6 separate regions of the Homo sapiens genome follow, and all the other regions are linked to region 1. Evidence: fine-mapped expression QTL. A gene starts in region 1. Each other region holds a variant in brackets. All regions are shown on one strand. Distances are between the middles of the regions.

The links. PIP is the estimated chance that this variant, and not a neighbour inherited with it, causes the effect. A credible set is the group of variants that fine-mapping cannot tell apart.
Region 2: its variant is the best candidate, but not a certain one, in a credible set for the expression of CRYBG1 in whole blood (INTERVAL, PIP 0.50).
Region 3: its variant is the best candidate, but not a certain one, in a credible set for the expression of CRYBG1 in testis (GTEx, PIP 0.64).
Region 4: its variant is the best candidate, but not a certain one, in a credible set for the expression of CRYBG1 in unexposed skin (GTEx, PIP 0.71).
Region 5: its variant is the best candidate, but not a certain one, in a credible set for the expression of CRYBG1 in whole blood (GTEx, PIP 0.77).
Region 6: its variant is the best candidate, but not a certain one, in a credible set for the expression of CRYBG1 in prefrontal cortex (BrainSeq, PIP 0.55).

Annotation. Positions count from the first base shown.
Region 1 is chr6:106,357,910-106,362,976 of GRCh38, forward strand. It overlaps CRYBG1 (crystallin beta-gamma domain containing 1), which reads left to right and starts at 2,808. Exons shown (of 22, transcript NM_001371242.2): 1 at 2,808-3,172. The coding sequence starts at 3,000. RefSeq lists silencers at 2,609-2,818, 2,839-2,918 and an enhancer at 2,814-3,680.
Region 2 is chr6:106,547,308-106,552,374 of GRCh38, forward strand. CRYBG1 (crystallin beta-gamma domain containing 1) reads left to right here. Exons shown (of 22, transcript NM_001371242.2): 14 at 4,545-4,671; 15 at 4,877-4,909. Among named protein-coding and RNA genes, the nearest start is that of RTN4IP1, 80 kb to the right of the region's middle. The variant G/A (reference allele first, on the strand shown) is at 2,662.
Region 3 is chr6:106,522,906-106,527,972 of GRCh38, forward strand. It overlaps CRYBG1 (crystallin beta-gamma domain containing 1), which reads left to right. Exons shown (of 22, transcript NM_001371242.2): 5 at 2,228-2,275; 6 at 2,363-2,481; 7 at 4,400-4,565. Among named protein-coding and RNA genes, the nearest start is that of RTN4IP1, 100 kb to the right of the region's middle. The variant T/C (reference allele first, on the strand shown) is at 2,533.
Region 4 is chr6:106,501,556-106,506,622 of GRCh38, forward strand. All of the region lies in intron 2 of CRYBG1 (crystallin beta-gamma domain containing 1), which reads left to right. LOC101927405 (a long non-coding RNA gene) reads right to left here and starts at 666. Exons shown (of 3, transcript XR_245566.4): 1 at 360-666. The variant T/G (reference allele first, on the strand shown) is at 2,160.
Region 5 is chr6:106,529,816-106,534,882 of GRCh38, forward strand. It overlaps CRYBG1 (crystallin beta-gamma domain containing 1), which reads left to right. Exons shown (of 22, transcript NM_001371242.2): 8 at 361-500. Among named protein-coding and RNA genes, the nearest start is that of RTN4IP1, 97 kb to the right of the region's middle. The variant A/G (reference allele first, on the strand shown) is at 2,678.
Region 6 is chr6:106,656,642-106,661,708 of GRCh38, forward strand. The region is part of intron 9 of QRSL1 (glutaminyl-tRNA amidotransferase subunit QRSL1); the gene reads left to right. Among named protein-coding and RNA genes, the nearest start is that of QRSL1, 30 kb to the left of the region's middle. The variant C/CA (reference allele first, on the strand shown) is at 2,824.

The DNA.
Region 1 (5,067 bases):
CTTCTCTTTTCCCTTCTTCCCTTTCCCTTTTCTTTGCCTTTTCTTACTGTTCCCTTTGCCCTTTAAGGTTCAATCCAAGGGCCATCTTCATAGTAAATCTTTACTGACCACTCCCCTTCCTCCCTTCCAAACTACCACGCTAAGTTAGTAACTTTTCTAAACTCCCCTAATACCTTGTACATACCACCACTGATTCTTTTAGCCTTTGATGTGTGTTTGTGTACATATATATGTATATCACATGATATATATATCAGATGATTTTATATATATATATATATATATATATATATATATATATATATATATATGATATAATCTATGCATCTGTCATTGCCTCCTCCCCCAAGTCAGGGCCTGGCACATAATTAGTACAGTACTCAATAAGTTCAATAACTGTTTCTTGAGGAAATATAAATTAAAACTGCAATGTGATACCACCACATCCCCATCAGAATGGCCACAATGAAAAGGATTGTTAATATCAAGTGTTGATGAAGATATTGAAAAACTGGAAATTTCAAACATGCTAGAAAGAATATAAATGGGAAACTTTTTTGGCAGAATTCACTAAAGCTGAACATATGCATATTGTATTACCCAACGATTGAACTTCCGGGTATAAGTATCCAACAGAAATGAATGTGTACATCTCAGAAGGTTCATATCAATTTTATTCATAATAGCCCCAAACTGGAAACAACCTAATGTCCATCCACAATAATGGATAAATGAATTGTGGCATATTCATATCATGGAACAGTATACAATAATTTTTTTAAATGAAAAACTGCTATGGGTCAGGTGCAGGGGCTCACCCCTGTAATCTCAACACTTTGGTGGGAGGCTGAGGCGGACAAGTCACTTGAGCTCAGGAGTTCGAGACCAGCCTAGGCAACATGGAAAAACCCAGTCTCTACAAATGTACCCCCTCCAAAAAAAAAAAAAAAGCCCGGTCCTGTGGTGTGTGCCTGTAGTCCTGGCTGCTCAGGAGGCTGAGGTGGGACGATCACTTGTGCTCAGGTGGTCAAGGCTGCAGTGAGTGCAGTGAGAGGTGATGGTAACAGTGTACTCCTACCTGAGTGACAGAGTGAGACCCTGTCTCAAACAAAACAAGACAAAAAACTGCTACAATATAAGCAACAATATAGATGATTTTCACCGACTAATATTGAGCAAAGCAAACCAGAAACAGAGTACATATTGTGATTTTCCACTAAAATGAAATTCCAGAAAAGGTCAAATTAATCTCCAGCAAAAGAGGATGAAATAATGGTTAACTTTTACAGGTGGGAGGGGTAATGTACTGGAAGAGGACAGTAGGGAGATTTTTAAAGTTTTGAAAGTATTCTATATTTTTATAATCATATATATTTACCTATTATTATTATTTGAGACATAGTCTCATCCTGTTGCTCAGGCTGGAGTGCAGTGGCGCCATCTCGGCTCACTGCAACCTCTGCCTCCTGGGTTCAAGCGATTCTCATGTCTCGGCCTCCCGAGTACCTGGGATTACAGGCGCACCTCCACCACCACGCCCAGCTAATTTTTTTTTTGTATTTTTAGTAGAGAAGGGGTTTCACCATGTTGGCCAGGCTGGTCTCAAACTCCTGACTTCAAGTGATCTGCCTGCCTCGGCTTCCCAAAGTGCTGGGATTACAGGCGTGAGCCACCGCTCCTGGCCTATAATCATACATTTAAAAGCCACATACGGAAGAATTTTCTAGGACAATGTCAACTCTCCATTAAAAAACTTTTCACACCCCAACCACATAAATATGTAAAAATTTGAGTTTTACCCTTATGATTTGTGCATTTTACTGTCTATAAATTACATCTTGATAAAAATGTAAATAAAAACAAATAAAAATGAATGTTCCTTGAATGAGTGAATAAACGAATGAATGAGTTGTGTTTTCAAAGAGGAAAATAAAGACATTACCGTGAAAGAGGATCTTGTACTGCATTGAATTTTTAAGTAGTGCTTAGTTCTTGCACTTTCTTTGCTCTAATGATGCCCAAAATAATTGTTCGTTTACTTACTTTGCTTAAGTATTAATTTCCTTTGCTATTTAGCCACGACTGTGAAGTTAAGACAAGAAAGTCATCAACAGTAATGCAGATGATGTAAATACCTTGTGGGACTGGCATTTAATTTACTGCGAGGGATCTATTAAGCTCTTGGGGAATTGGGGAATATGCCTAATTCCCTTCTGGCGTTTTTAATTTTTTTAATCCTTTTGTGTTTTATGAGATGTGAGTACAAATTAATTATTCAGACTCTTGAGAGAGGAGACGAGTTGGCGGAGTTGCCACCCGTGTTCACGAACAGGAACAGAAGCCACCAGCACATGACATTGCCCAAGCCACCCAGAGATCAGAGTGGAAGAGTCCTAATTGCTGGGCGGCCCAGCCCCGGGATGTGCCTCTCCCATCCTTCTCCAGGCGGGGCTCGTGGCTAAGCAGCGACTCACCCTGCCAGCCTGTCACAGGCCAAGAGCGGCCAACAACTCCGCAGGCGACAATGGCCGCTGCACCCCAGGCGCTGTGGAAGCCCGACCCGGCTCTGGGTCCCATCTTAGAGCCTGGGATGCAGTGTCGGGAGTCGCGGTGCCCAGAGCATCCAGTAGGTGTCGCTGTCCCACGGCCGCCGCGCGCCCCCGGGGTGGGGAGCCGGGGCGTGTCTGCCTCACCTGGGGCTCCCGGCGCGAGCGCCTCACCTGGGCTAGCGCCCCTTGCCGCCCGCGCCGCGCGGGGGCGCTCTTCCGCGGCTGGGTCCCCGCCTCCGCCCCAACAGCTCGGGCTGCAGTGCTGCTCGCGCTGCGCTGGGTGCTGGTTCTGCAACCCGCGGCCGTCCCCCCGCATCCGCGACGAGGGGGCGGGGTCCCACGGCGCGCTGAGAAAGGCGGGCGAGCTGGCGCTCAGGTGTGTTCTTCCATAGGGCCCGGGCGGCAGAGAGGACCGCGTCCCGGCAGTCGGAGCGGGAGGAGGACAAGACGATGCCGCTGTCCCCGCCAGCCCAGGGCGACCCCGGGGAGCCCAGCCCGTGCAGGCCCCCTAAGAAGCACACCACCTTCCACCTCTGGCGCTCCAAAAAGAAGCAGCAGCCGGCGCCGCCTGACTGTGGGGTGTTCGTTCCGCACCCGCTCCCGGCGCCTGCCGGAGAGGCCAGGTGAGCTCCTCGCCCGAGCCCTCCAGTCCCACCTCCTCCTCCTCCTCCTTCTCCTGCTGCGCTAGCCCTTGGACTCCTGACCCCACTTGGAGGAGGGGAAAGCCCCGGGGTCTGTTTCAGTCCGCAGGAGGGTACCCGGGTCCGGAGGGGAGCGATCGTAGCCGCTGGGGTTGACGAGGTTCCTCGCGGCTTTTGGTTCAGACCAAGCACCGGCGAGAGGAACTTGTGCCCACGCATGTGGCCTTTAGTATGACTGCAAAGTTTTCATGCAGGAGCCTCCCGCATCAGCCTGCTAACCAGAGCGGCGGGGAGTGAGGGTTGTTACCGTCCTAAATGATGGCGGGAACTCTGCTTTGGGGTTAGGCACTGCTTTTGAGCTAGTGTCTTTATTGTAAAGCTCTTTATTGTGAATATCTGTAAGATCTGTGCTCTTACAGATGTTATACCCCCATTCTCCTCGCAACATACGAAGGGAGGAGGAAGTGGCAGGAATGGTTACCCCCATTTCATGGGTGGAGGAACTGAGACCAAAGGATAAATGGCTTCTCCCCATTGGAGCCAGTGGCAGAGCTAGAGAGCACCTAGTTATCAAAACTGTAGTTACCATTGTGCTTTTTGATTTTTATCATGGTTTTGAAGTGGTTTTATTCTATATGTATAATTATTCAACTATAGCATCAGAGTTTATGCATTCGTTGAATAATAATCAATTTGAAGTAACAGCGTATTTACATGGCTCAGAGGTGTGAAATATTTATAGTGATGGACAATTGACAATGTCCAGTAAATCCTTCCAAATGTGTTTTTAAAATACACCCTATGAGGGCCAGAATAAAATTGTGCAAAATTTGCATTTTAGACATGGTTTTCCTTTTATTTCTTTCTTTCTTTTTTTTTTTTTTTTTCTGAGACGGAGTCTTGCTCTGTCACCCAGGCTGGAGTGCACTGGCCCAATCCCGGCTCACTGCAAGCTCCACCTCCCGGGTTCACGCCATTCTCCTGCCTCAGCCCCCGAGTAGCTGGGACCACAGGCGCCCGCCACCACGCCCGGCTAATTTTTTGTATTTTTAGTAGAAACGGGGTTTCACCGTGTTAGACAGGATGGTCTCGATCTCCTGACCTCATGATCCGCCCGCCTCGGCCTCCCAAAGTGCTGGGATTACAGGCATGAGCCACCGCGCCCGGCCTCTCCTTTTATTTGTAAAAAAAGTCAATTTTACGATCTATTTTCATTCACTTATTGTATTGAGTACCTTAGCTAAGTGCCATGTACTGCGATATAAAAAACAATGAGAGACAGGAATAATTGTGTCATCAAAGAATTGTTAGTCTCTTGTGGATACCAAAAAATGCAATGATAGATGCCAGCACACAGGAGGGGATCAGGGAGGCTTCCTGGAGGAGGATAGGTGAAGTGGCTTAGGCAGAAACAGGGAGGAGCAGCGAGTTCCAGGCAGGGGCTGCACTGTGCACATCACCAGCACTTAGAAGAGCGTGGCACTTCCTGAGAAGCGCAAGTGGTTGCAGCGGGGAGGTCTAGGTGTGAGTGGGTAAGGGTAGGAAACCTAAGAAAGAAGTCATTTTATTTTTCTCTCATATTTTATCATCCACATTGGTAATCAGTTGTAGTAGAAATATATTACCTATTCAAACGTTTACTGTGCCTAATTATAGATTATACTTTCTAACAAAATACAGTATTTAATGTACCCAACATTGAAGTTCTTTTCTATTACCTCAGTAAATATTTTAAACATTTCCATCGTGGTTTTCCTTTTAAGATCTAGTCTTATCATTTACTGTCTATCAAAACATAATAATACACAGCTATAGGTAATTTATTCAAATGTAAATACATTTTAGTATAAAATTTAAAATAGGAGGCCGGGCGCGGT
Region 2 (5,067 bases), 190 kb after region 1:
TATTTATTGCGGTCTGTTATGTGCAAAGCATTGTATTATGTCCTCAAAGAAGTTACGGTATTTATGTAAAACATAATTATTGCTACAAAAGAGGTACAGATTAAATGCTCTGGGAATCCACAGCAGAGAGAGATTAATTTCCAGTCTGGACACAGGGAAGGAAGACTTTGTGGAGGAGGTGGCATTGGAGTTAGGCCTGTGGGATAGGATAGGAAGGCTGAGATGAGCCAAGATGATGGAGGAGGACTACCTATTCACTTTAAATAGTTTCAAAGGAAAATTATTGTATTTTAATGGCTTTATTTTTATTGGCAATTAAGTATTTTAGCTTGGTTCTTTATTTCTTATTATGGCATGCATTGTCAGAAAAAAACTCTTCTGAAGTTCTTGTTCCATGAAAGTATCTCCCAGGAGGCTCACCATCACATGGGTAATACATCCCCTGGGCAGTAAACTCATCATTAGTCCTGAAACAGAGAACAGCCTTCAGGAAGGATGCCCATGAAACCAGCAACTGAGGTTTTTAGGAACTGCATTTGATTCTTACTGGAAATGTCGAAAGAAACTCCCTGCTTATCAGTTTCTAGTTCTATGCTATATTCTTGCTCAAATAGTGGAAACTGGGCTAGTTTTTTAAAACTAGGAGCAAAATGAAATATTTCTGGTATTCAGATGAAAACGAAAAGTGTTGTTGTTTTAAATTCTTTTTCCTTTGGCCTTCCACGGAAGGGCAGGTTTACCCTGCTGCCCTTATCTTCTGAGCAATTATTCCACCAGGCTGGGACCTGCTAGTACTTGTGTACATGCCTTTCCCCCGTCTCCCCACCAGTCTTTAAACAGAGGAGTGTTGATTCATGTGTACAGAATACATCTGGACAAGGACAGGGAGGGATTTTCTTAAGAGCCCCAAGTGTAAGTTGTAAGTAGACTCTCGGATCATAGAGCAGAGAATCTCAGATCTGGGTTTTGCGGCTTCTCCCCTCCCCCACTCCCCCCATTCATGGGTGATTCATCAGGTATCTTGGAGGGAAAACAACACTACTGTCAGTTCAAGTAACATCTTAATAAATTGTTTTCCAGCTTCAGCTTCAGTGAATTAGAGATAGGCTTAGCTGGGTGTTGGGTATTTACTTACAAGTAGTTTAGTTTCATAGGAAAATACAGTACCCATACTTGTTAGTAAAAAGAACAGAGTACTGGCTAAAGCTGCTTCCAGGGCTGTCCTCTCTCCTTGGCATTCAGCCTCCCACCTCACTGTCTTTTTTCCCTCCAAACCTTGAAGTCAAACAGAAAGGCCTTTAACCCTCTTATCTCTCTACTTGTTACAGACTCGGAGCCCTGGTGAGAACCCTTTTTTTGATGTGGCTCTACTTCTTTAATTGTTCGTTGTTTTTTTAAAGTCCTAGTGTTTGTAACGTAGATTTTCTTTTTTTTTAAATTTTATTATTATTATACTTTAAGTTTTAGGGTACATGTGCACAACGTGCAGGTTAGTTACATATGTATACATGTGCCATGTTGGTGTGCTGCACCCATTAACTCGTCATCTAGCATTAGGTATATCTCCTAATGCTATCCCTCCCCCCTCCCCCCACCCCACAACAGTCCCCGGTGTGTGATGTTCCCCTTCCTGTGTCCATGTGTTCTCATTGTTCAATTCCCACCTATGAGTGAGAACATGCGGTGTTTGGTTTTTTGTCCTTGCGATCGTTTGCTGAGAATGATGGTTTCCAGTTTCATCCATGTCCCTACAAAGGACATGAACTCATCATTTTTTATGGCTGCATAGTATTCCATGGTGTATATGTGCCACATTTTCTTAATCCAGTCATGTAGATTTTCTTGATGTGCAGACACTCCTCCCACATAGCAGTGCTCCCTGCTCTGGCTTTACTGTTGCTTCCTTTCATGCTGGGGGTAAAGCCTGAGGCCCTGTGGGCAGAGGCAGCACATGCGGGTACCCGTGTGCTGTACAGCATCACCTGGTCAGCCCGGGGACCTTGGCCCACTCTCCTACTTACACTTGAAAATACAAACTTTCACAAAGGTTAAGTGAGTTCTTCAAAGTTATCTGAAAGTTAATGTCATGGCCACAGGTGGAGCCAGGTCTCCTATCTCCTCACCTCTCAGTGATAAAGGATAGGTTTTTAGGCCGGGAACAGTGCTCACGCCTGTAATCCTAGCACTTTAGGAGGCTGAGGTGGGTGGATCACTTGAAGTCAGGAGTTTGAGACCAGCCTGGCCAACATGGTAAAATCCTGACTCTACTAAAAAAAATAAAAAATAAATAAAAATAAAAAAGAACAGGTTTTAAAAATTGCTAGTGAGGTTCTGAAATCGGGGGATGGGGGGTGGTAGGGGGCTGTATTTCCTGAAAGACTGAGTGGTGCATATAGCAGCTTCTCCATTTGGATGGCTGGGAGTGAGTGCACAGATGTTGGCTGTTATTAGCTACTTCTCACTGGAGATTTTGGCAGTGTTCTTTTTTTCCTTGATGGCTGTTCATATTCTAGTAATTACTGTACTTGAGTTTTTGTTTAAATCAGCCCTTTGGATAGTAAAATCATAATCTGCTCTAATTATAAAGTGTGTGGACTGTTTTAGGCATGGTTTACTAGAACAGTAAATGAAAGGGAACTTTCCAGGGCACATGGCAGGTTG[G/A]GTCACAAAGCAAGGAGAGCCTGGTGGGCCTCAGGACAGGTAGGTTCAGTCACGTTCTGGCCAATAGTCGATTGTGTCACCCTGGACAAGTCATTTCCCATTCAAAACAAATACCAACAAATACTTCCATGTGATGCTGCTTACCCATCTGTGGGCTTTGGAGGACAGAGATTTTGTCTTTTTCATCTTTGTATATCTAGTGCCAGTCTAGTTCCTGGCACCTGGTAAATGAATTAACTTACTGTGTCTTAGGTTTTTCCCATCTGTAAAATGGGAACACCAATACCTCCCTAGGAGATTAAATGTGATAACAGATGTGGAAACATTTTGCAAAGTTCTGATCACCCTACATAATACATACATAGATATTATTCCTTTAAGCTTTGAGAGGATCATGAGAATGATGAATTAATTGAAAAGATACTTAATGTCTTCAATATAATGGTATTAAGTATCTCTTTAATATAACAGAACTGAAAAACCTTTTCCTTTCAAAGACTTTATCTTTGCATAGGAAATAGCATCATTAAATTGGTTTTGTTGATTTTCCTCTGGGTGTAGATCACTTAAAAGAGAAAAAAACATTCCAAAAGAGATTTATTTTTAGTATTTCTATGAGTTTGCTCAATTTTGTTTATTTAATTTTTACATATTTATGTGATGTTGGAAACACTGTTGGAAACAATATTTTAGTTCTGTTCTGCATTTTTAAAAGCATTTCTTCTGTTAACTTCTTTTTCAGTGTGGTTTGTTGTGTAATAGACACAGCTTCCTAAGATCTTTCTGCAAAAATATTTTAAGGTTGAGAATGAAAGGACTTATTGATTGCTTATTAAAAGAACTAGGTTCTTCTTGAAAGTCCTGTTTGTTTTGTTTCCTTAGAATACAATTAGAAAAAAAAAAGCACAGAGAAGTATTGCCTTTGTAGCTTTCTCAAGAAATAGTATTTGATAAGCGAGAACGCCAAAAAGTTCATGTCAAGATACCCTTACGCTTACCATTTCTTTTGCATTAAGTTTTTTTTCAACTCTTATTTTAGATTCAGGGGGTACATGTGCAGGTTTGTTACATGGGTATATTGCATGATTTCCTGAAGTTTGGGGTACGGTTGAACCCGTCAACCTGAGCATAGCATGCAACAGGTAGTTTTTCAAACCCCCCTCCCTCCTGGCCCCTTTTGTAGTCCCCAGGGCCTATTTTTTTTTCTTCTTTATGTCCATGCATGACCAATGTTTAGCTCCCACTTATGGGCAAGAACATGCTCATAAGTATATGTTCTTGCTCATAAATATTTGGTATTTGATTTTCTGTTTGTGTTAATTCGCTTAGGATAGTGACCTCCAGTTGCATCCAAGTTGCTGCAAAGGACTTGATTTCATTCTTTTTTATGGCTGTATAGTATTCCATGGTTTATATGTACCACATTTTCTCTATCCAATCCACCATTGATCAATGAACACCTAGGTTGATTCCACATCTTGATATTGTGAATAGTGTGGCAGTAAACAAGACACGTGCAAGTATCTTTTTGGTAGAATAATTCGTTTTCCCCTGGGTATATCCCAGTAATGGGATTGCTGGGTTGAATACTAGTTCTATCTTTAGTTCTTTGAGAAATCTTCAAACTGCTTTCCACAGCAGCTAAACTAATTTACATTCCCACCAGCAGTGTATAAATGTTCCCTCTTCTCTGCTGGCTTACCATTCTGATTTGTCCTATAGACAAACCCATCTGCTTCTAAAGGTTAATGGAGAATCAGAAAAATTAAAATTTCAATTGGCAAAACAAATGAAAGTTTCTGTATGATACATAGATATCCAAATATGTGATCGTTTTATATGTAAAATATGAACTCCAACAAGTGATTGCTTTTGTTTCTTAGATGGGTAGCCTATGAAAATCCTGACTTCACAGGAGAACAGTATATACTGGATAAAGGATTTTATACCAGTTTTGAGGACTGGGGAGGCAAAAATTGTAAGATCTCTTCTGTTCAACCTATATGTTTGGTAAGGAGTTATATTTTTGTATGAGAATATTTAACTGAATTCTGGATTTCCTTAATGTGTGTTCCTGGTTCATGTAATAGTAATTGCTATGGAAAATATTCTGAGTTTATTTTTAGCAGTAATTGCTAATAATCTAGAAGAAAAAAACTTTTTCAATGTGTTTGTTCTATTCATTTCCTTTTCTCCTTCCTTTAAAAATTTTTAGGATTCTTTCACTGGCCCAAGGAGACGAAATCAGGTAACTTTAAAAATATTCTTTTATATTAATATATAAAGGGCCTTCCATTGAAAAGCTGAACTTATGTTTCAAATGTCAGACATTTGGGGCCGGGTGTGGTGGCTCACGCCTGTAATCCCAGCACTTTGGGAGGTCAAGGCAGGTGGATCACTTGAGCT
Region 3 (5,067 bases), 160 kb after region 1:
GATGTTTGGTGTTAGGACCCTTTATGTTTAAAAATGATTGAGAACCCCAACGAGCTTTTGTTTGTATGGGTTCTGCCTATCAGAATTTATTATATTATAAATAATTGCTGAGAAAATTGTAAAACACCAGAAAGTAGAAGTGCACACTGCACCAGTGCTCAGAGCAACGATGTCATCACACATCATGGAGCCTTGTACTCCGCTGGACATTTGAGACAGAGATGAAAAAGGCAGGTGACCTCTTCTTATTATGAAAATAGTTTTGACCCCATGGACTACCTGAAAGTATCTTGGAGACCCCCGCAGTGGCCTCTGAACCACATTTTGAGAACCACTGCTATAAACAAATAAGACTGAATCAGCCTATGGTACTCAGAAATCATAAAATTCTAACTATTTCTATTAATAGTTATATAATAGAAATATTAACTATTTCTCTCAAGCACAAAATTTCCACTGGTCCACTTCCCATTCATTACTACTTTGTTCTTTTTAATTGTTCTTAGATCGCTTTCCTTATTTAACTACAGTCTGACAAAGTTGATAACAGAATATACAGTTTCCCTATGAAAATCAAGTCAAATGACATAAAAAGGAAAAATAAAATCTTTATACTTTTTCTAGGCCTTTTTATGATTAAAAAATATGGTCTTTCTTTAGGTCCTGGGCTTTTATTGATTGTATATTCAATCATGAAGGTTTTACCTGAATTTTGTTTTAAATTTTAGGCTTTTTCTTCAGTTTATCTACTTCTAATGTGTATATATACATAAATAGGTATATACCATCTGGCTTCTGATAAGGCTCTAGGGGGGCCCTTATGGCCTTTTTTTTTTTTTTTAGAGTCAGAATCTCGCTCTGTCACCCAAGCTGGAGTGCAGTGGCATGATCTCAGCTCACTGCAACCTCTCTGCCTTCCAGGTTCAAGCGATTTTCATGTCTCAGCCTCCCAAGTAGCTGGGATTATAAGTGAGTGCCACCACGCCCAGCTAATTTATGTATTTTTAGTAGAGACGGGGTTTTGCCATGTTGGCCAGGCTGGTCTCGAACTCCTGACCTCAGGTGATCTGCCCACCTCAGCCTCCCAAAGTGCTGGGATTACAGGTGTGAGGCACTGCGCCCCAGCCTTTTGTGGTCTTCTGGGCATATCACACTCTGGTGTGATGCAAGAGCAGTCAGAGCAAAGGCAGTTCCTAAAATAGGCATCCTGGTCAGCACTGAAAGTAGTTCACGTTTTGTAATATTTTTACATGTATAATTACTATTTTATTATCTTATGCATTTCTGGTTTTACTGGTCTTGTCAGATGGTCTTGAAAATGATTAGTTTTGGAGCCATATTGAAATGTATTTTGTCTATCAAAAAAGCGGGATTAGGCCGGGCACGGTGGCTCTCACCTGTAATCCCAGCACTTTGGGAGGCTGAGGCAGGCGGATCACGAGGTCAAGAGATCGAGACCATCCTAGCCAACATGGTGAAACCCCATCTCTACTAAAAGAAAAATACAAAAATTAGCTGGGCCTGGTGGCACATGCCTGTAGTCCCAGCTACTCGGGAGGCTGAGGCAGGAGAATCACTTGAACCCAGGCGGAGGTTGCAGTGAGCCAAGATGATGCCACTGCACTCCAGCCTGGTGACAGAGCCAGACTCCATCTCAAAAGAAAAAAAAGGGGGATTAAATATACTATGTGCAATGTACATTATGAAATATACCATATATACCATAAACACTTCTATTTAGACTAGTGGTTGTTATATGATTGTAGATTTACTATGAGAAAACAATATTTATATGGATTCAGATAGGGTATGTATATGAACACAAAATTGATTCAGCTCTTTCTAGGTAAGTGATTAATATATTCTAATTTATCTTTATTTGAGATGATACTGATATTATTTGAATTAGAATCTCTTAGCTGAGTTCCTATTCTGTGAACTGACATGAAACATATGTGCCCTGAATTTTCTAGCATTGGTGGAAATAGCCTAGACATTTAAATTAGGAGAAATTGAAATGGCAAATTCAGTTAGAGGTGAAAAAACCTCAATTTAAAAGCATAAACTCAAAGAGTTTTAATACAACTTTAGCATCCATTAGAGTGGAGGTTTCAAAATCGATACAATGTGGGAAAAGTGTGATCTACCTACAGGATCGTGGGTGGAAAAAGAGGATCGTTATGTGAAGTTGTAATTATTTGTTGTGTTTTTGTTCATCTGATTGCAGACACTTAGAGGAAGTGTCCAAAATAAACTCAATCCCCGACCTGGAAAGGTAAGATTATTTTCTGTTTCTAGTCTTGATTCTATTTTGGTCTGACAGAGTACAACAAAGTGTGCTACCACTTTCGTTTTCTTGCAGGTAGTGATATATAGTGAACCCGACGTCTCTGAGAAGTGCATTGAAGTTTTCAGTGACATTCAGGATTGCAGTTCTTGGAGCCTCTCTCCAGTGATACTCATAAAAGTTGTTAGAGGATGGTAAGAATGGCACTTTAAGTTCCTGATGTCAAGTGTTTGAGTTTTACATAC[T/C]TAATTAACTTTTTAGTCCTCACTACTAGTTTAAAATTATGGCTTTAGCAATGAAAAGCACAGGAAATACTACTCGTGGTAAGATAAGGGATTCATATCTTAACAATGTCATTTTAAATCATGTTTCTGATTATAGCAGTGATATATGTTTATGGGAGAAAAATCAGAACAATACAGTAGAACAAGCTTCTTTTTCCCATGCTTCCCCATAATATTGTTTTGGACTAGTCATATATCAGGGCCCATAACATACTCTTGGTTGATGACCTTTAAATGAGGTTGATAAGAATTGCACTAGTTATGTTGATAGGCCAGATACGACTTTTCAAAAACCTATAAGGAAACTTGAGAACACGTAGGAAAAGGCAAAGTAAAGAAACAATAAGGAAAAAAAATCTATAAGGTAAAACAAAAATAATCTATAAAGAAAGGCATTTTTCTAACTTTTTAATGACAGTTCAATGCAGCACTAACTTAAAATTTAATTTACTTTCCAATATTTCCACAAAAGATTGTTTTGGCTAAGTAAAGAAACTGGTGAAAAAAATAAATATTTTGACAGTTTCTGAAATCATTTTATCAGCTTCATTGCCTCTTGGAGATACACAGGAAGTTGGGTAGAGAAAGGCAGCTTAAAAAAAGAAATCGCTGATCTGGCATAATAGTTATCTTTTGGTGCCTACTTGTAAACTTGTTTGAAGTAAAGAGGGTAGACCTCTGAATGTTTATGGATTTACAAATTCATAAGCTTTTCTTTTGGTCTCCATTTGATTAAATATGCAGCAGCTTTCCTATTAGATTTTTAGGTGTTTTAATATTTTTTCCTATATATCCAACATAGTCATGAGAAAAACAAGATTTGCTTTTATTCTTAAATTTGAAGACAAATGCTATTTTAATTGCTAGAGAATTGGCCACTAATATACAATATATAATAGTGGCAATTTTTTACACAAATTTTGTTTTTATGGAACAGTACTTTTTCCTTTCTTTTGCAACTTTTGTCGGCTTCTTTTTCTTGAAAGCATAAGCATTTACACTGCCATATATTGACATGAGGTTTTTCTTTAGTGTTTGGCTGTTGTTGGGAAGAATATTATTAAAATGCTTTCCATTACCATATCTATAGTCTTTTGTGCCAACATATTCATTGATATGACTGTAATATGTAAGTTAAAGTCTCTCTAAGAGAAATGTTTTCTACACATATAAGGAGACAAAAGGCCAGACATGGTGGCTCATGCCTGTAATTCCAGCACGTTGGGAGGCCGAGGTGGGCAGATCACTTGAGGCCAGGAGTTCGAGATCAGCAGGCCAACATGGGGAAACTCAGTCTCTACTAAAAATACAAAAATCAGCCAGGCTTGGTGGCACATTCCTGTAATCCCAGCTACTAGGGCAGCTGAGGCAGGAGAATTGCTTGAACCAGGGAGGCGGAGGTTGCAGTGAGCCGAGATCGCACCACTGCACTCTAGCCTGGGCAACAGAGCAAGACTCTGTATCCAAAAAAAAAAAAAAAAAAGAGACAAAAAAAAAAAAACCTAGTACAGTAAACATCCATTTATCTGACATATTATCATAAGTCTCTACCACTTGGCAATTACTTAGAACATTAGTAGCTCTATAGCATTCATATAGGTAACTCCAAAGTTCTCTAAGATCCTGATATAGTTCATGAGTTATCAGAGGCTTAATTATACCCAGTAAAATATTAGTGTTAGGGAGAGTTTAAGCTATTTTAATTGCTAGATAATTGGCTGCTAATATTCTATATATATATATAAAATGGCAATTAGCCAGGTTATTTGAGTAATCAAAACCTCTCTCACGAAGACTGACTAATGGTTTTGCTGTGTTTTATTGTTAGTTGGATTTTGTATGAGCAACCAAATTTTGAAGGGCACTCCATCCCCTTAGAAGAAGGAGAATTGGAACTCTCTGGTCTCTGGGGTATAGAAGACATTTTGGAAAGGCACGAAGAAGCAGAGTCTGATAAGCCAGTGGTGATTGGTTCCATCAGACATGTGGTTCAGGTAGGTTGTGGTAAATATGGATTTTATTTATTCAGCTAATATTTATGGATTCTTACTTTAAGGGAAATGATCATTTTACGAAATATGTGATTGGGAAACATATTTGGTGCCTTATGGATATATTTTCTGTATTTTAAGTATTTGTACACTTTAAATAATTTAAAAAGAAACATAATTGGTTAGATAATTTTTCACAATAAACCCTTTAGGTAGATCTTTTATGCCTGTCCTTCTATTCCCATCTTCCAAATATATTTTACCTGGTAACTTGGTTTAAATGAGTTCTGCCTCTATGAACAGGTTTTTCATTTATTTAGTGTTTTTGTTTGCTGTATGAGTTCTGATTACTTTGAGTGGTTTATAGGAATTCTATTTTGGAAAAATAAATAATCCAAAAATAATTTGGTTGATTAACTCTGGGATTTCATGTGGGTTTAACAAAATATTATTTACTCTATTTGAGGCCACTTTATGGGTGAGGTAAAATTTCTTGGTTTCTTGT
Region 4 (5,067 bases), 140 kb after region 1:
TATCGCACTGTTAATAAAGCCAGCCATCACTGTCATAGGCTACTTTGTGCTTTTCAAAAGATGTTCACATGTATCATTTCACATGAATTTCTCAGTACCCTGTATGATAGATGTGCAACTTTTGAGAGAATAAGTGATTTGATCCCATTTAGTAGTATTCCTGAGTTCTGATCATAGAAGTGTGAAATCTACTTCTTAATTTGCAAAGTGTTGGTAGAAAGTCAACAATTCTCACTAGAAACTACAGGAAACTAAGACATTTCTGGGCAGTGTATATTAATTGGAAAGATAAAGATTGTTCCATTTTCTAGAAATAAATCCACTATTAAATCCACACTTACAAACATGGCTAAACTGACCTGAAGTTATGAGGTCTCAAGGTCACTAGAAGTCTCAGAGCCAGCCTAGCTAGAGTCCGTGCTGTGTTGGAGAGGCTTGTCTGTTCCTCTTCTCCAGCTCTCATTTCTCTTCTGGGTCCCAGTCAGCCCCAGGGCCTCTGACTTGGCTGTAGCTGTGCCTGGTCGGGGCAGGCAGGCTGTGTTAGTTGTCTCCAAGGGCCGCTTCACCCTCTTTCCCCCAACTTAATCACCATCTCCTGCATCATATCATTTATACATGGATGACCCAACTGAAGTTTAGTCCTTGGTTCTTTAGTACTTAGATTCTGAGACTCACCAGTGGCTTTTAAGTGCTTTAAAGTAACCATTCTTGATCTTTGACATGAATTATTGCACAAGTCATTCTTTTTAAATTGCATAAGGAATGTACTTTCTGGGTTACAAGTTAATAAAAAGGAACTGATTTGATGACTTCACAAGGAACACATTTCCATTTTCCAGTTTGGCTAAATTTTAGTTAGGAACTAACTTGTCAGTAATTTGATTATGTTAATCAGGATATGCATATAATCCAGGAGGTAGAATAAGAAATACTTTTGCTATAAATTTCAAACTACTCTATCTCCTTTTAATTACACATTATGCATAAGAAAAAAAATCGCCGAATTAGGATAATACATCTCAACTGTAAAGCAAATTAATTCAGCCGGATAGCTTTGTGAGAAAAAGAGAATGTTGGGGAGACTATTCAAAGTACAGGTAGAGAAACCTTCTGGGGTACTTGTTAGTCATAATTAGGCACACAGTAGAATTAGTCAGGATCCCAGCACAGGAAACATATAGCACACTCAAGTTGTGTAATTAAGGAAAGTAGTGAAGGACTATTTACAAAGTGTGGGCGAGGTTTTAAGGAAGCCAAGAAGGGCTAAAAAAAACCTTAGGCTTCAGGGTTCTTCTTTCACATGGCCTCTTCCAAGGCCCTCTCCTTAAAATCTATAAGCCAGAATTTTGTGTTCTTTGTCTTAAAGAAAACTCTCAAAATAACATATGCCTCATGCCCCACAAAACTTCATTCTACCTCAAGCAATAGCTAATGAAGCCTTCCCATCTGGCACCTGGTGAGGTCCTTTCCCATCTTAGGCCTGAAGGAGCAAGAGGGGAAAGCGGCTCGGGAATATGGGGAGAGAGAACAGCGGCGGAAGTGGGCTGCCTGGCAGAAGCCCTGGTCACACCCAGCCACACCCAACCCAGAGCCCAACTAAGAGATGGAGAGATTAGGGGGGAAATCAGGGCCTCCCACTGGCTGAACCTAACCAAATCCTAAGGACAAGAAAGTCAGTTTCTACCTTCCATCATAACTGGGAGCCTGGGGCGCAGACAAGGCTGAGGGAGGGTGAGCCTACGGAAAGATCCAGCACACTCTATCTACAATTACCTGGATTCTAAAGACAGAGCTCCATCACAAGAGAGGGCTCATTGGCTGTTTATGCTATCACATCCATTGCTGTACTGCATGGCCTAGGAGAAAGCATGTAAGCCATGCCTTCATAAAAGTGACACATTAATCATTCTAGTAAAGTCTTATTTTTCTAATGATACATTATAATTTCTAACAAGAAAAAATACTGAGCTACCTTTTAGAAAGCCTGACTTATGTCTTAGAAAAAATAATTCGATTCTACAGGCCACAGGTTGCCTCTTTAAGGTGCGGAGAAAATTCTGGCACAACGTAGACACTCAATAATTATCAGTGGAATGAATGAGTAAATGATCCTACAATTCAGACATTCCATGATCTTATCTTTTATCTTCCTTTCTGAT[T/G]GATCATGTGTCGATGGCTTGAAACAATTAGGTTTCACTTTGTCTCTGTCAAAGTATAAATGACTTAAAGACAATACCAACCCGAAACTGGGAGTCTGCTTTTTAAAAGAAGCTTTTTGGGAGAATGAAATTATAATTATAAATTATAAATTAACTTTTATAATTGATGGCTTTTGTATTCAGTGACACCTCTTTTTCAGGACACAGGTTAATCTGGAAGTTAAAAAGTCTGTCACTATTCTTTCACCCAATAGTATACCTTTGATTGTACCCAACAGGATGATATTATTGTTTGGCCTGAAGTGACAGCATTAGAAAAAAAAAAAAAAAAAAACCACAACCATTGAGGTGTAAGTAGAGAGGTATGTGTTACATTATGTTGAAATGACAGAAAAAAGATTTTTTTAAAAAAAGAAAAATAGCATCAGAGATGAGGTGGGCACTAGAAGTGGTGACAAATATTAGAAGCAGCATGGGGCAAGCAGACATTCCACCCCGGGAGACTGGGAGCAGTGACATCGGAGAAGAAGGTTCTGAAGCCCTAACCTCAAGGATTATTGGTTATATCATATGAAATTGGACTGTAGATCAAAAATGGCCAAATGTCACAGTTTCATATACCTTTTCATAAGAGATCTGCTTACTACCAGACAGTGTTACAGTCTGTGGGTCATTTAGTGTAAGCCGTAGTCTTCACTCCTTCTAACAGCCCTGGAAGAAATCACTATTGTAGCACAAATGTAGTAACAGAGGTTCATAGTTCTGTCTCCAGAATCATAAAGAAGTAGCTAAATTATATCTAGTATACTCTTAGGTAACTGAATCATATATAATAGAAAATATTTTAAAAGTTAAAATGAAAAGCTTCTGTGCTTAATAGATCAGAGTTCATTTATGTGAACATTTCTTTATTCTTTTTGCTGTGCGTGTGTGTGTTTGTGTGTGTGTATATGTGTGTGTGTGTATAGAACAGGCCACATATATTATCCCAATCAATATCAGAAAGGAAAACACAAACGGAAAGGTGGGGAGGATAGTTAATTTATTTTTAATGCCTATTCCAAATCAATGTCTGTGGTATCAGGGATCTGTATGTGGATCCTCCCTTAAACTTAACTTCATCTGCCTGGTGTTTCTGATACTGAGATGATATTCTGCCATACACTTATCATGGGAAAATACAATTTTAACTTTAATTCTAAAAGTCTTCAGAATGAATATCCTGGAAGTTATTAAAAAAAAAAAAGAATCATGTCTCATAAAAGTCTTTCTTTAAGATGGACTGGAGTGCAGTGGTGCAATCTTGGCTACTGCAACCTCTACCTCCTGGGTTCAAGTGATCCTCCGGCACAGGACAACAGGCATGCCCCACCTCACCTGGCTAACTTTTTTTTTTTTTTTTGAGACAGAGTCTTGCTCTGCCAGACTGGAGTGCAGTGGCACCATCTCAGCTTACTGCAACCTCCGCCTCCCGGGTTCAAGCAATTCTCTTGCCTCAGCCTCCCAAGTAGCTGGGACTACAGGCACGTGCCACCACACCCGGCTAATTTTTTGTATTTTTAGTAGAGACGGGGTTTCATCATGTTAGCCAGGATGGTCTCGATCTCTTGACCTCAGGATCTGCCCACCTTGGCTTCCCAAAGTGCTGGAATTACAGGCATGAGCCACCGCACCCGGCCCAATTTTTGTATTTCTTAGTAGGACAAGTTTCACCATCTTGGCCAGTCTGGTCTTGAACTCCTGACCTTAAGTGATCCGCTGGCCTCAGCTCCCCAAAGTGCTGGGATTACAGGCGTGAACCACCATGCCTGGCCTTGTTTTTCTGTGTGTGTTTCTCCTTTTTCTCCCCCTTCCCCATTCCCCATCTTCGTTCTTTAGTTAGCTGTCACGAGTCTAAAGTCTTTCTTGCTTCTATTGAACAGAATTTTCTAACCCCTATTTTAACTTTTAAAGTTGAAGTGTAAAGTAGCTCAAATTCCTATATTTTTAAGCCACACAACTCATGCTATTTTTTTTTTTTTACAAAAAAACTGCTCAGGAAAAAAAGTTGCTCACTAGCACAAACACACATATGCATATGTTGTGAACAAGTAACATGGCCAATCCTATCATTTACAGTAATATCCAGTTGACTCATTCCCATGTGGCTGAATTGAAAAGCTAAGGTATCTTTCAGAAATCAACAAAGTGAGAGCTCTTAGGGAATCACACGTGTTTAAAAAAAAAAGTTACTTTTGTACATTGATGACCACATTTTAGAAGGATGCACAGGTGAGTACATGTAACAAGATTTTGTTCCACTTTCCTGAGTCAGATTTGGGCTGAGAGGCTGCAGTAAACCTGTGCACCGGTAGCTCCATCAACACGTGGAATCCTCACTCTGGCAGAATAAAGCTGCCAAGTCTTGACCACACTAAGTTTTAGGCAGATAAGATTTTCATTCTGATTTGTTTAGAACAATGTTTCTAGTTGTCTCCAAGAGCATTGACAACTCCTTTTTTGAAAGGCAGGAGGGATGTTACTAATTCTTTAGTAGCAGCAAATACTTTATGTCCACCTCTAGCTGTCAGTCCCCCATGCTAGCTGTTGGAAAGGCAACAGAACATTTTTCCTGTTCTCAAGGAGCTTACATTCACTGGGGAATGAAAAGGTGGGAAACATAGGAAAACTTATTTATTTATTTTTTATAAGAAACATCACTTTACTCAAAATGTTATTAGATTTCTTGTCACTTTTTTTTTTTTTTTTTTTTTTTTTGAGATGGAGTTTCGCTCGTCAGCCAGGCTGGAGTACAATGATGTGATCTCAGTTCACTGCAACCTCCGCCTCCTGGATTGAAGCAATTCTTCTGCTTCAGCCTCCTGAGTAGCTGGGATTACAAGCAACCACCACCATGCCCAGCTAATTT
Region 5 (5,067 bases), 170 kb after region 1:
AGTCTCTGTGCTTGGATAATTATATCAGAGCAAAGGAACCAAAACCCCAGACCAAAGAGGACCAAGTGAGGATGAGAAAAAGAAATATATTCCAAAACTCAAATAAAATACATTTCTGATGATCTTTGCTTGAATGCAACACTGAGTTATATAACTAAAGCAAGTGTGTCTGCCCCGAAATAGGTGTATTATTAATTCATGGATGAAAACAGGAAAGGGCTAAAATGGCAGGTGCTCTGTGAAATGTGTTTGTAAATTTAAAGCTCATTTTGATTAGTTGTAAGAAGAAGAAGAATGAGCTTACTAGAGAGTGAAATACATGGTGCAATTCTTACTATCTATGCATCTATATTTTTTCAGGATTACAGAGTTAGTCACATTGACTTATTTACTGAACCAGAAGGGTTAGGAATCCTAAGTTCCTACTTTGATGATACTGAAGAAATGCAGGGATTTGGTGTAATGCAGAAGACTTGTTCCATGAAAGTACATTGGGGCACGTAAGTATTTTTTTTTCAAACAAATTTTAATGAAGTTTTTTTGTGAGTGTAGTACTGGAAAAAGAGGACTTAAGATACTCTGACTCTAATTTGTCATCCTGTTAAGTAATTATTAACTGTAAGGTATATTTTTATAAGGCACGTAAAATTCTGATTCTTTTGCACCTATGTTATGATTCATCTGTCTTAAAAACAGTATCGATTTATTATAGGAAATGGGGGGGGATTGAATTTTTTAATGTAAGGCTTTCCTTGTCACAGAGAAATCTGATTTATTCAAAGCTGAGTAGCAGATTATATTTTCATGGTGATTCAGAGGAGGTAATTCAAAGCACATGCCCCTGATATTTCTGGGGGGGGATGGAAGCCAACACACATGGTACTTCCTTGAATATTTTCACACAATGCTGGTTCAAAGCCCCTAGGAGGTTGGTTTCACAAATCACAGGAAACAGCAAGAATATTTTGAAGGAAATGGGAATACCTCAGATAGGGGAGAAATGAGGATAGAAAGTATAGACTGCAATACTGAAGAATGTGGTCTCCAAAGTGAAGCACAAAGCCCCAAGGCATGTGAAAGACATTCACTGAGATGCAGGAAAAAACACTAAAGCTTCTTTCTATTTGATTAAAGTCTCCACCTCTTAAGATTTTATTTTTGTATATGTTTTCTAATATGCATAATGTATTAGTTCAGTGGTAATGTATATAATTTATAAATATTCATATATTCAGAGAATGCTCAAATGTTTTTACTAATGGTTTATACAGTCAAAAAAGTTTACAGCCTGTCCCTAAAGTGGTATGGAGTATCTCTGCAGTGAACAATAAGGCACTCCTTAATCATGCTTTTTGCATTCTATTTATTACTAAAAGCCTTGGTTTGCCATTGTTCATATCTTAGAAAAATAATTTGCTTGTGTAAAAGGTAGGAATAGGATAAATTACAGATCATAGAATCTGATTTTTGATCCTCAGAAATGAGAAACTAAAAACTTCTAGGCAACTTAACAGGAAGTGTGGCTATTGAGAATTGGTAGCAGCTATCCTTGAATAGTTGGAAGGTGGTCATATAGAAGAGATATTAGACTTGCTCTCTGTTATTCCATAGGAGGTCCCAGGAAAAACCAGTAGAAATTAGAGAGATGGATTTTGACTTGACCCAGGGAAGAACTTTCTGATGGTTAATACAGTTAAAATGGAAGTGGGCTGCCTTGTTAGGTAAAGAGTTTCTCATCGCAGGGAGTACTCAGGTAGAGGATGGACAAGAATTTATCCAGAGCTTTGTAGGGAAAGGAAAGTATGAGTTAGGTACCTCCTTTACGACAGTTTGTTCATTTATTTATTTACTTTTAACATTTTGAAATATAAGACACCTAGAAAAAAGTTCACAGAAGGTAAATGTACACTTAAACAAATAAAGTGAGCACCCAAGTAGACACCACTTGAGCCAAGAACTGGAACATTACCAGCACCCCAGAAGCCCGATGGTATTCTTTCCCTATGGCAGCCCGTCTCAGAAAACAACCTTCCTCTCCCAGAAGAGTGAGAAAATAACAAGGGAGGACTATAGTGATGGTTCGTCAATATACAAAGGTGTAGTTACTAGGGCAGAATTTGGGGTGTAGAGAACAATATTAATTTAAATATCTCCTCTTGATGTATAAAGTTATTTTCCAAGGATAGTATACATTTTACTGCTTTTTAAATTATTTTTAATTGACACATAATAATTGCACATATTTATGGGGTACAATGTGAGGTTTTGATACCTGTATACATTGCATAATGATCAAATCAGGGAAGTTAGCAAATCCATCACCTCAAACACGTATTATTTCTTTGTGGTAAGATCATTCAGAATCCTCTCTTCTAGCTATTTTGAAATATAAAATATATTATTGTTAATCATAGTTACCCTACTGTGGAATAGAACACCAGAACTTATTCTATTATATATTTTTACCACATTTTCTTTATTCATTCATCTGTTGATGGACACTCAGGCTGATTCTGTATCTTGGCTATTACAAATAGCACTGCAAGAAACATGCAAGTGCGGGTATCCTTTGACATACTTGATTTCATTTCCTTTGGATATATACTCAGTAGTGAGATTGCAAGATCACACAGGAGTTCTATTTTTAATTTTTTGAGGAGCCTCTATACTGTTTTCC[A/G]TAATGGCTGTGCTAATTTATATTCCCACCAATAGTGTGGAAGAGTTCCCTTTGCTCCACATCCTCACCAATACTTGTTATATTGTGTCTTTTTGATAATAGCCTTTCTAACTGGAGTGAGGTGGTATCTCATTGTGGTTTTGATTTGCATTTCCCTGATCTTGAGTGATGTTGAACATTTTTTCATATACCTCTTGGCCATTTGTATATCTTCTTTAAATAAATGTACTGTTTTTTGTGTACATTTTGAGTTATATCATTTGGTACCCCGTAGTCCTTGAAAGGCTCTGAAATTTTTAAAGGTGGTTAGTTTAGAAGTAGAAATTAGGAAAGGCTTTTATTTCCTCTGCATACCCTGTCTAAATATGACAAGAAATTGGGACTTTAACAAATATAAACCCAAAAGAGTGTCTATGAGATGTATTAAATATATTCAGTAAATCTGTTAATCAAGCATCTACCATGTGCCAGGTGCTTTTCTAGTCACTGGGAATACAGCAGTGAAGACATAAAATGATGTCCCCATTCTCCTGGAGCTGTCAGTCTAGCAGGAATAAACAACACAAATACATATATAATGTGTCAGATGGCAAAGGCTACAAGAAACATAAATTACAGAGGGGCAGGCATGTTGCTATTTTAGATAGGGTAGCTAGTAAAGGACTCTGGTGACATTTTAAGGAGGGACCGGCAGGAAGTGAGGGAGTCTGCCCTGGAGCTAGCTGAGGGAAGAGGGGCAGGGAGCCTGTCCCAGAGAGGAAGCACACCATTTGCAAAAGCCCTTCTGGGCATGCTTGGGCAATAGCTAAGAGGCCAAGGCGGCTGAAGCTGAGTGAAGTAGGAGGATAGGGATAAGACAGGGCTCAGGTCACATCTGGCCTTTCACGCCTTGGGGAGGAGGATTTAGATTTACTCTACGTGGCATGGAGAATCATTGGCGAATTTTTATCTAACTTGTGTTATTAATAGAAGGATCAGCCTGTCTGTTCGTATAGAAAATAGTCTGTAAAGAGGCAAAGGTGGAAGCCAAGAAACCACGTAGGATGCACTTGCAATCATACAGCCAAGAAGAGATGGTGGCTTAGACGTGCGATGGTGGTGGTGGGAAATGGTCAGATCTTGGATGCATTTTGAAGGTAGAACTAACAGCATTTCTGACAGATTGTGTGTGGGGTATGAGGGGCCAAGACATGCCCAGGGTTTGGAACCCCAACATTTATTGAGACGAAAAAGACTTGGAGGAGCAGGATAGGAGAGAGAGTGAGATTCAGGAGCTCAGTTTTGGACAGGTTAAGGCTGAGATGCCAACTGCAAATTCAAGTAAGTGGGCAAGAAGGTGACTATGTGAGGCTGGAGTTCAGGGGAGAGGCTGGAGGCATAAATTTAGGAGTCACTGGCAAAGAGAATGTATTTAAACCAGGCACAGGACACAGTCCCAAAGGGGAGTGGGTGTAGTTAAGGGAAGAGAAGGCACTTTTGTATTTAGAGACTGGGAAGAAAAGTGGGAATCTAAGCAAAAGAAAATGCCTTCATCTCTTGCTGCCTTTAATTTTTTTACATGAAAGAAGTCTATACACTTTTTTTTAAAGAATTGGTGTCAGGTTGAGAAACACCACTTTCCTTAGAAAAGAATGAAAAAGGCATCTGTTATCATATTTTAATCTCAGTGTCTGGAAGGTGCCATGACTCAGGCTTGGCTATGTTGAAGCACATTAATCTACCTTAAATGATATTTCTTACCTTTGCAGTAAGTTTAGCTTTGCCTCCTGGGTGGTAGTTACCAGCCTGTCACAGCTTACAATTTATGACAGGTTTGTGTCATGGTGAGCATCTTCTTTTCTGGCTGTTCATTTCTGTTGAACACTGCCTCAGATGTTAATTCAAAGTTTGGGCTCGTTGAACTTGGTTGGTGAGCTTAGACACCAGGTCATTAGTGCTTTTATAGATCTCAAAGGAAAGTCTCAAGGGGTTGAGAAGATGTCACTGATAGTAAGTACTGAAGCTCATTTTGCTTCTGTTGATGCACTGGTTCCCCTGAACTGGGATAAGAAGTCTTTGCTGTAGAGGGAACTCCTTAAGAATCCATTAGGTGATTTATTCCAGGGCCCATTCACTCTAGATTAAGCTCTTCTACTCATACACAAAATAAGGGTGTTACTTGTCTGGTCAAATTCTTGTTTGAGGAAATGAGTGATTTCTAACTAAACTTGCCTTTCAGATTCTGTTGAGAGTAATTTGTTTTTAAATCTTTCTTTTAAGCAGCTGGCTAATCCTGGCACCCATCCTCCCAGAGGTGAAAGCATATTGGGTTTTTTGGGGGCGGGGTGTGTGTAGGGGTGGAAGTGGGGGGTGGTATATTTATGACGAACAAAAGCAAAGAAGTTTAGAAC
Region 6 (5,067 bases), 300 kb after region 1:
CAGGGCCGATAGTTAGAATTACTTTTTATTTTTGAGACAGGGTCTCACTCTGTCACCCAGGCTGTAGTGCAGTGAAGTGATCGCAGCTCACCGCAGCCTTGACCTCTTGAGCTTAAGTGATCCTCCCACCTCAGCCTCCCTAGTAGCTGGAACTACAAGCTTGCACCACCATGCCCAGCTAATTTTTGTATTTTCTGTAGAGACGGGATCCTGCCATGTTGCCCAGGCTGATCTCCAACTCCTGGGTTCGAGCAATCCACCCATCTCAACCTCCAAAGTGCAGGTGTTACAGGCATGAGCCACCATGCCAGGCCACAGGATTACTTTTTCTAAGAATACTATTTGAGGCCGGGCCCAGTGGCTCATGCCTGTAATCCTAGCACTTTGGAAGGCCGAGGTGGGCAGATCACCTGAGGTTAGGAGTTCGAGACCAGCTGGCCAACATGATGAAAGCCTGTCTCTACTAAAAATACAAAAATTAGCTGGGCGTGGTGGTGGGCACCTGCAATCCCAGCAACTCGAGAGACTGAGGCAGGAGAATCACTTGAACCCGGGAGGCAGAGGTTGCAGTGAGCCAAGATCGTGCCACTGCACTCTAGCCTGGGCAACAGAGTGAAACTCCATCTCAAAAAAAAAAAAAGAATACTATTTGGTTATGTTCCAGATTAAAAGACTGTTACCATATTGACCAGATGCTTGTAATGACTTTGGAGTAGGAAAACAAAAGGAAATAATTTTCTAAGTGAAAACATTTATTAAGCTAAAGATATTACTTTTGCCAAATATTACTGATTAGAACCATATTGTTTATCTCAGGGCACAAGTTGATGAATTATATAGGTCAATGTAACAGCATAAAAAGAAATTGAAGGAGAGAAGTCAGAAAGCATTCCTCATGATCACCATTTGGGGGTTCTGATAAAAGGAAGTTAAAATTACTGCTGGTATCCCTAGCTCCTGAGTCAGTGCCAAGTTGGGTCAACTTGGGTAGACAAAAGTGATAGGAAAAATGGGATTCGGAATACTTTTTTTATTTTAAAAAGTCAACTTATGTGCCAGGAAGAGTTTATTTATTTATTTTTGAGACAGAGTCTCACTCTGTCACCCAGGCTGGAGTGCAATGGCACGATCTCAGCTCACTGCAACCCTGCCTCCTGGGTTCAAGCAATTCTTCTGCCTCAGCATCCTGAGTAGCTGGGACTACAGGCACACGCCACCACACACAGCTAATTTTTGTATTTTTAGTAGAGATGGGGTTTCACCATATTGGCCAGGCTGGTCTCAAACTCCTGACCTCGTGATCCGCCCACCTCAGCCTCCCAAAGTGCTGGGATTACAGGCGTGAGCCACCATGCCCAGCCAGGAAGAGTTTATTTTTAATTGACATAAATATTTACTTATGTAACACATTTATATCTACCTTTTGCTATTTATCTTCTGTTTGTCCCATCTGTTCTTTTTTCTTTTAACCTTTTCTTCTGCTTTTTTTTCTTTAAATAGTAATTTTTCTCTTAAAAAGATCTAAAATGAGAAAAATAGTGTCATTTATATTTACCTACATATTTAGTATTTCTGGTGCTTTTCTCTCTGCTCTAGAGATATAAATTTCCATCTGGTATAATTTTGTTTTTACTTGAAGAACTTTCTTTAATATTTCTTGTAGTCCTGTTGGCAGTGAATTCTTTCAGCTTTGGTTTATATGTAGAACTCTTTATTTTGCTTTTAATTTTGAAAGATATTTTCTCTGGGTTTAAAAATGTAGGTTAAGCTGGGCACAGGGTACACTCCTGTAGTTACAGCTACTCAGGAGGCTGAGGTGGGAGGATTGCTTGAGCCCAGGAGTGAGAGCCTGCACTGAGCTATAATCGCACCGCTGCACTTAAGCCTGAGCGACAGAGCGAGAGCCCATCTCTTTAAAAAAAAAAAGTATAGGTTGCTTCTTCTTTCTGTACTTTAAAGGTTTTGTCCATTGTCTTCTGGCTTACATAGTTTCTGAGAAGTCTGTTGTCATTCTTATGGTCATTCCTCTGTATATGATGTATCTTTTTTTCCTCTGATTTTAAGATTTTCTTTTTATCATTGGTTTTCAGGAATTTGACTGTGATGTGCCTTGGTGTGGTTCTCTGCATATTTCTTCTTCTGCATAGGGGTTTGTTAAGCAGCTTTGATCTGTTGGGTTATAGTTTTAATCAAATTTGGAACATTTTGGCTATTATTTCCTCAAATATTTTTTCTGTCCTCCATCTGTCTGGGACTCTCTTCACATGTATATTAATCTGCCTGATGTTGTCCCACAGCTCACAGACACTACATTCTTTTTTTTTCCCCCAGTCTTTTTTCCTTCTCTGCTTCCTTTTGGCTAGTTTCCATTACTGTTTTCAGAATCACTGATCTTTTTTTCTGTTATGTTGATTCTTTCCAGTACATTTTTTATACATTATATTTTTTTCTCTAGAAGTTCCATGTAGGTCTTCTTATCCCTTCAATTTCTTCATTATTTTATATTTTCTTCTACCTTCTTGAACATATAGAACATATTTAGGCTGCGTGCGGTGGCTCACACCTGTAATCCCAGCACTTTGGGAGGCCAAGGCGGGTGGATAACTTGAGGTCAGGAGTTCGAGACCAGCCTGGCCAACATGACAAGACCCTGTCTCTACTAAAAATACAAAAATTAGCTGGGTGGGAAGGCGTATGCCTGTAATTCCAGCTACTCGGGAGGCCAAGGTACAAGAATCACTTGAACCTGGGAGGCAGAGGTTGCAGTAACCCAAGATTGTGCCACTGCACCCCAGCCTGGGTGACGGAGTGAGACTCTGTCTC[C/CA]AAAAAAAAAAAAAAACATATTTATAGTAACTGTTTTAATGTTCTTATCTACTCAGTATTCCATCATTTTTGCATCTGTGTGTATTAATGCTTTTTCCCTCTCTGGTTATGGGTCATATTTTTTGCTGCTTTTCATGTCTGTATATTGTGAATTTTACATTGTCATTTGCTAGACTTTTGTTATATTCCTTTAAACAGTGTTGGGCTTTTTCCCAGGATGCAATAAAGGTGCTTGGAATTTGTTGGCTCTTTTCAAGGCTTCTTTTAAAGCTTTGTTAAGATAAATCCAAAGCAGCCTTTATTCCAGGGCTAATTTTACTTTACTTTGAGGTGATGCTTTGATGCTGCATATATTTGAGTCTTTCGCTTTGGCTGTTCGAAACACAAACTTATTTCCGTCCCTGTTTGAGCTCTAGGAATTGTTCAGTCCACTGCTCTTTGGGGATTGTTTCCCCAGCCTTGGGAATTTCTTCTCATGCACTCATAGATCAGTACTCAGCCAGAGACTCAAGGAATCTCCCTGCAGATCTGTTGAGCTCTCTCTTTGTGCCACTCCCTTCTATTCAGCACCCTGCTTTGCAAATTCTAGCTGCCTTTGCCTCCTTGAACTTCAGATCTCTGTCCCTTTAACTTACCCCCCACCCCACATACTGTTTAGCTTCCTCTCTGGAATGAGGCCTGAAAACTGCCCCTAGGCATTAAGCTGGGGAAATCAAAGGGCATATCTCATTTTCTTTTCTTTTCTTTTTTTGGAGACAGGGCCTCACTTGGTCACCCAAGCCGGAGTGCATTGGCATGACCATGGCTCACTGGCAGCCTCGACCTCCCAGGCTCAAGCTCTTCTCAGCAACCCTCAACACTCCCCACCCCCCCCGTGAAGCTAGGACTACTGTAGTTTTTTTTGTAGAGACAGGATCTCCCTGTGTTGCCCAGGCTGGTCTCAAGCTCCTGGGCTCAAGGAATCCTACCCCCAGCCACCCCACAGGCATGAGGGACCACACCTGGCCTGGCTTACTTCATTTGTTTCTCTTCTCTCACAACTTTTTCTCCTGAATGTCTGTTGCCTAATGCCTGAAAATGGTCATTTCATATATTTTGTCCAGTTTTCTAGTTGTTTAAGAAGGCAGAGTGTCTTAGTTCTTTTTTTTTTTTTAATCCCCTATTCTGAGAAGCAGTCTTAGTTCATTTTTGCTGCTATAACAGAATGCCTGAGACTGGGTGATTTATAATGAACGGAGATTTACTGGCTCACAGTTCTGGAGGCTGGGTGGGAGGTCCAACATTGAGAAGCCAGCACCTGGTGAGGGCCTTCTTGCTATGTCCACACATGGCAGAAAGCAAGGGTGGGGAGAAAAAGAGGGAGAGAAAGGGAAAGCACATGGGGGGCTGAACTTTCCCTCTTAGAATGGCACCAATCCCACTCAAGAGTGGAGTTGTTATGGCCCAATCACCTCTTAAAGGCCCCATCTCTTAATACTGTTTCAGTGGCAGTTAAATTTCAGCATGAGTTTTGGAGGGGACAAGCATTCAAACCATAGCACAGGGTAAATCCCATCTCCATTACTCTATCTTGGATGGAAGCAGTTCTTCTTCTGAGCCATATTTAAAGTAGGAAGAAATTTAATAGAAAACAAGTATTTGTTTTGTTTTGTTTTGTTTTTTTTTGAGACGGAGTCTTGCTCTGTCGCCAGGCTGGAGTGCAGTGGCGCGATCTTGGCTCACTGCATCCTCCACCTCCTGGGTTCAAGAGATTCTCCTCCTGCCTCAGCCTCCCCAGTAGCTGGGACTACAGGCGCCCACCACCATGCCCGGCTAAATTTTTTTGTATTTTTAGTAGAGTCAGGATTTCACCATGTTGGTCAAGCTGGTCTCGAACTCCTGACCTTGTGATCCGACGCCTCGGCCTCCCAAAGTGCTGAGATTACAACATGAGCCACCAGGCCCAGCCAGTATTTGTTCTTTATAAAATTCAGGTTTTGGAATATGGTGTTTAAACCACTTAGGTGTTGTCAGTGTGTAAATTATATGTGATGCCTGCATTGGTCTCTCTGTAGACCTGGTGGTCAAATAAGAGTAAGGACCTATGATATTTCTGTACCACTCTTTTAGAGTAAAACATATTTCACGTTTTTATCGTATTTTATTTGGCCCTCAGTAAAACTGGAGCAGGTATATCCATTTTTACTGTTGTGGAAACTGTTGTGGAAAAGAATGGTTAGTTCTTTTTTTTTTTTTTTTTTTTTT